2 separate regions of the Homo sapiens genome follow, and region 2 is linked to region 1. The links come from fine-mapping of genetic effects on gene expression. A gene starts in region 1. The other region holds a variant in brackets. All regions are shown on one strand. Distances are from middle to middle.

Evidence for each region. PIP is the estimated chance that this variant, and not a neighbour inherited with it, causes the effect.
Region 2: its variant is the best candidate, but not a certain one, in a credible set for the expression of EDN1 in whole blood (TOPMed, PIP 0.51).

Annotation. Positions count from the first base shown.
Region 1 is chr6:12,289,110-12,292,028 of GRCh38, reverse strand. EDN1 (endothelin 1) reads right to left here and starts at 1,668. Exons shown (of 5, transcript NM_001955.5): 1 at 1,336-1,668. The coding sequence starts at 1,399. RefSeq lists enhancers at 1,736-1,805, 1,816-1,915.
Region 2 is chr6:12,253,585-12,256,503 of GRCh38, reverse strand. It overlaps LOC124901260 (a long non-coding RNA gene), which reads left to right. Exons shown (of 3, transcript XR_007059454.1): 2 at 1,456-1,500. It also overlaps a transcript of EDN1 not described here. Among named protein-coding and RNA genes, the nearest start is that of EDN1, 35 kb to the left of the region's middle. The variant A/G (reference allele first, on the strand shown) is at 1,447.

The DNA.
Region 1 (2,919 bases):
CTGCCTGTTGAAAATCCGGCTGGCTTCTACAAGGAACTTGGTAGGACAGCACTATCCACTGAAGCTTACTTAACATTGGCACATGACTAAAGACAAGAAATCACAGTTATTCCTAGCTTTGGGGCCACTTCCCCATTCAGGATGACCCTCTCTTTAGGGGGTACCCATCCACTTCACATGCTGTGTAGGGCACAGGGTACCCCAGATGATGTATATCTTTCAAAATTAGGTGGGGAAAATGATTGGAGAGAGAAATTAACTATTCAATATTCAATTCAGGAGGGTAACTCCATAGAAACCAGTGACCTAAGGTGGGGCTGAGAAGCAGGTCAGGGGACTGAAGGTAGGCTGGGGGGATTTTGAATTCCGAATCCCTGGGCATCAGGCTTGTGTGGGATCCACTGCCTCCCCCTTCTCCACTACTGCCTTGCCTCTTCCTCCTAACAATTTAGCCATGCAGCTTATCTGCCCAATTTTGTACATTTCAAATGATCAGACACATTCCAGGATTTTCATTCCCTTGACATCCTTTCTCTTTAGTCAGGGTCACGAAAAGACAAAAAAAGTGCACTGACCCTAAAAACGGGGGGGACCCGGGCAGATGCACACGCACTGCCTAAATCCTTCGGCAGCCAAGAATTATCCTAGCTCCCCTCCCAGCACAGGTGAATAAAGCTGAAAAGAGAGCTCACACTGTTTTGGGTGCCAAAAACCTGCCAAAAGAAACCTAAAGTCAATGATGACAAATTTTAAAGAAAACATCTGCTTCACCCAGAAACCGCCTGCGGGGGGTGGTGGCGGGGGGGGGGGGAGGCGGTAGTTAGTCAACAGACTTTTGCTCTGCAGGTGATTTTACTGAACATACATTGCTTGAACGACTGGATACAATTCCTTGGCTTCAAGCTGGAATGCTTAAATATTTTACACGTTAACACACTATTAAAATAGTGTTTAAATAAGATTTAAGTTCCTATATGGCCTGTGTACCTGTATAAACACATATATTACAAACATACATTTGACTAAATTGTATATGTCCATACTCTTCTCATTTTTTAAAAGCCAAGGAAACACATAATGGAATAATAATAATAAAACGATAAGTTATTTTAATGTCATGTTATAGTCAATTGCACCTAATTGTATTCAATAGAGGAATTTTACATTTTACACTAGAAGACTTAAAGTAGCTTTCAGCAATAATTCTCAGACACTTGCTCTCTAAGCTGCAGTCATAAAAAGAACGGGGAAAAATAGAAGCAAGAAAAGCATGAAGGTGGATAAGAACACACTAACTTGTAATTCCGAGACTTACAAGTCAACGAGCGTGCCTACCTGTTTCTGGAGCTCCTTGGCAAGCCACAAACAGCAGAGAGAAAATCATGAGCAAATAATCCATTCTGAAAAAAAGGGATCAAAAACCTCCCGTTCAAACTGAACCCAAAGGAAAACGAAGAAAAACAGCTTCAGGTCCCTCAAAGCGCTGCGGGTTCCTCAGATCTCAAAGCGATCCTTCAGCCCAAGTGCCCTTTTAACGGGGAGAAAAGGCAGCGCCTGCCAGGAGAGAAGGCAGCGAGCGGAGCGTCTGCAGGCGCACGCGGCGGTGGAGAGCTGGGACTGCAGGAGGCGCAGGACCCGTTCGCCTGGCGCAGATGCAGAGGCGCGTCTGACTTGGACAGCTCTCTGCCGGCTTTTTATATTGAACCCCTATTAGAGTGGGGGTAAACAGCTCCGACTTTATTCCAGCCCCAGACAATGTTATTGTGTTATTAGTCACCAACAGGCAACGTGCAGCCGGAGATAAGGCCAGGCCCGAAAGGAAATCACTGCTAACTTCAGAGGCAGACGCCCGCCGTCTGACAATTCGGGGGCAGGGCTAAGAAAAAGAAAATACCCATTAGAGACCTTTGCTAAACCTGCCCGTGCAGTGCTGGAGTCCGCTTCCCCTTTGCAAGCTGCCAGCCCCGGAGTTCAAGAATCAGAAGAGGGGACTCCAGAAAAAAAGTCATACCATTGGTATGAAAAGTATGAGCCACAGTTTAAATAGATTGTATTGTTGTGTGCGGGGAATTTTTTTTAATTGTTGCTCGCTTCATTTTCCTTTTATGTCTCTCCGATTCTAGTCTCAGTCAAACAAGGGAATGCTCTCCCTCGTCACTGCCCCACTACTGGGGGTCAGACTATTTTGGCAGATCAACGTACTTTTCTCTTCAAGCCCCTTCCTGCGGGTCTTTTTTGCTGAAGTTCTTTGCATCTATCGGAGAAAGATCCGTGAGGGATTGGCAAGAAAGGGAGCTTAAAAATAACATCAGAGCTCGTTTAGGCACATGCCCAGTCTTTTCCCTATCACTGATGAGAAGCCCCGATAAGTTCTTTTGTGTGTCCACACTTCCCCTGCGGAGGAGGCTGATAAACTGATTGAAAAGCAAAGGTGTTTTTCACACAGAACTTAAATCTTAAGATTGGTCGGTGCCACCAATCTTAAGACATGGCGGGAGAAGAACACCAGGGGGAGATGAAGAGCTACAGGGGCTGATGTTTTACTAGGACAAAAAGGAAAACCCTTCTAAATGGCAGAAAAAAACGCAACCTGGCTTGGGGGCCGAGGAGGGTCAAGGAATGTTGCCTAACATAGGAAGGAGGAATGCACCTCAGAATATTCTATTTATTCCCCGCACAAGCAGGGACATATTTTCTGGGACTCTTTTTTTTGGGGGGGTGTCTTCATTTAGGGCAAAAAGGTGTTCTTGTACAAGGTTAAGTGAATATGCAAGGAAGGTGGTGCTGAGAAGGAAATGCCATTCGAACAAGGAATCAGATAATACTTCACATTTAATAATGTGTTTACATTTTCAAAACAATTTCCTGTCTATCTAACCTTGAAATCCCCCCCTGAAGTACACACAGGGCAGTTACTGT
Region 2 (2,919 bases), 36 kb after region 1:
CTCTTGTTATTAGGTTGATGGCTCACTGTGGAGGGTAGAGGTGGGCAGGTGAGGAAAAACATTTTAAACATTTTGAGTTCAGGTGCCTAATGGTCTTTTTTGGGTTTTAGGGGGCGGGGGGTCTTTTGTTTGTTTTGCGGTTTTGTTTTGTTTGACAAGATCTCACTCTGTTGCCCACGCTGGAGCGCAGTGGTGCAATCATAGCTCACTGTAGCCTCGGCCTCCTGGGCTCAAGCAATCCTCCCGCCTCAGCCTCCCAAGTAGCTGGGACTGTAGACGTGCACCACCATGTCTGGCTATTTATTTTATTTTATTTTTCTGTAGAGATGGGACTCTCGCTTTGTTGCCTAAGCTGGTCTCAAACTCCTGAGCTAAAATGATCCTCCTGCCTTGGGCTCTCAAAATGCTGGGATTACAAGCGTGAGCTACTGCACTGGCCAAGCCGTCTTGTTTCCTGTGCCAGCTTTTTAGAGGAGTTACAGTGGGTTACAGTGGTTCCTAAGCACCTTATCCAGGATGAATAAGAAAAGTTGAAACTAGAAGCAGATCCCTCTTTATTGTGTACCTTGTAACAACCTGGCTTATTTGTGAGACATTCCAACATATCTTTAGAGAGATTTACTGTCCTCTTTAAAGTTATTTAGCAAACACACTCTCTCTCAATATTTGTTTTAGACTAAGTCATAAGAAATAGCTGATATTCAATTGTTTTGACCTATAAAAATGAAGATGTTATAGGGCTTAGACTATTGGTCTGTCAGTTAATATTGGAACTCCCAATCATTAATGATTACATGTGATGGTAACCTAAATAGTCACATGATCCTTGACTAGGAACTATCTCAGGGACGCTAGAAAGCCAGTTGAAGCAGACATTTGTCTCTTCAGACTTCCACAGCCAAAATCAAAGCAAAAACACATTGGCAGACTTTGGTCAAATACAAGCACAAACTGATGTTCAGAGCATTCTTATAAATAGTCATGGTGATATTAGACTTCCTGGTCTTGTTCCTGCTTTTAATGAGAGAGAGTACCTCTACTCTTTAGCCATCAGATATCACTGACAATTTGAATAAATGCCATTTGTGTTTAAGTTTTCTAAGAATTGTTATTCCAAATGGCATTGAAATGACTTTATGAGCTTTATAATTTTTTTCTTTTTAGATCCATTGATGTAGTATGCTAACCTATTTCTCTCTGATTGAGCTATTCTTGAATTCCAGGAATAACCCTACTTGGATGTGGTGGATAATTTATGAAGGTGCTATTGTTTTGAAATTGTAATTCTTTTAAGGATTTCTGCAGTTGTATTCAAAAATAAGATTACTATTCAATTCAAGAGTTTTGTGTTTGTTATTTATTTGGCTTTTTGAAACAGAATCATTTCATCTTCATAAAATGAATTTGATAATTTCTTTCATCTTGTTTTATCCCACGGAACAATTT[A/G]TCTGAAAGAAATTACCTGCTTCTTGAAAATGTGAAAGCTGTAAAGTTGCCCAGGTTAGTATCCATTTTTTGAAGTAATTATTGAGTACTTTTTCAAATTCTTTCTGAGTTACTGGAGATTTCAGATTTCTTAATTATTAAGACAATTTTGATCATTTATGTTTAGATAGGAAATTTGCCATTTTAAAAATTATTCTAAATCATAAGCATAATTTGTAATATCCTTGATATCTGTTGTCCTTTCTCATAAATTTCTCATAAATTTTTCAATTGAGTGCATACAACTTCTCTTGATTATATATAAAATGCTACAGATTTATGCACTTTATTATGTGCATGTTTTCTTTCAAAGAAATACAATTTTTCTACTTTCTGATTTATTTTCTTTTAATCTTGGTCAAATCCTTCTGATGATTTCTTTTGGCTTATTTTTCTCTTTTCCAAATTCTTAGGTTGCATTCTTACTTCTTTTTAAATAATATTTCTCATTTAATATTAAAACCCCTTCTGGATAGATCTTTGTCCTGGGGATATGGTCCACAGCTTTATGGGGTTTACAATCTGGTGTGGACTCCAGACATATCAACAGGCTGTTATAATCAAGTGGAAAGGTACTATGATAGGGGAAGTTCAAGGTTCTATTGGAACACTCAGAATAGGAACTCGACCAGATTTGGCAGAGTGGAGAGTGAGGAAAGGTTTACAAGGAGAAGTGGTGTCTAAACTCAATAGGAATTGGCCAGGCAAAGGGAGACGGAAGAAGAGCGGGTACCAGGCAGAGGGAAACACCCTCAAGGTGAGAAAGCGGCTGACCCAGTATTTGGGAATTGCAAATGCTCACGTGGCTGGATATAAAAAGCAACAAATGAGATACCAGCCTGGAGAGATAATCAACAGTTAAACTACAGAGGGTGACATTAAGGAGTTCTGGACAATGGGATGCCAAAGGTGTTTTACACAGAATAATGTTATAATCAGATGGGTAGACTGAAAGATAGTTTGGAGCTCCCCATGGATAGTAGATTTGATGAAAACAAGCAGGAGGCAAGGGAACCAGTTAGAGGGTTGAGGTAGAAGGCCAGGTAAGAGATGATGGTGTTCTAAATGAGCAAAATGTCAGAAAGCACAAAGGGAAGGAGATGGATTGAGATGTATTTAGGAGGTAGAAAAACAAAACGTCACGGGCGGTAGATTGGGTGTGCGCAGGGACAGAGGAGTAAAGAATGATGCCCAGGTTTTTGGCCTGGCTTTGGGGGCAGTAGGACAATACCCTCACTTAGAGAGGCAAGAGCAGAAACTGAGTCAGATGAAGAATAAGAAGATGGACTTTGAATGTGTTGACTTTTATTATTAGTAGTAGTAGTATGAGTTATTCTTTTTGTCCTATTTAATGCTGTTCCCTTTGACTTCTATTTTGTCTAAGCAATAATTTTTCTACCCTACATTTTGTGTGTGCACATGTGTGTGTAAATT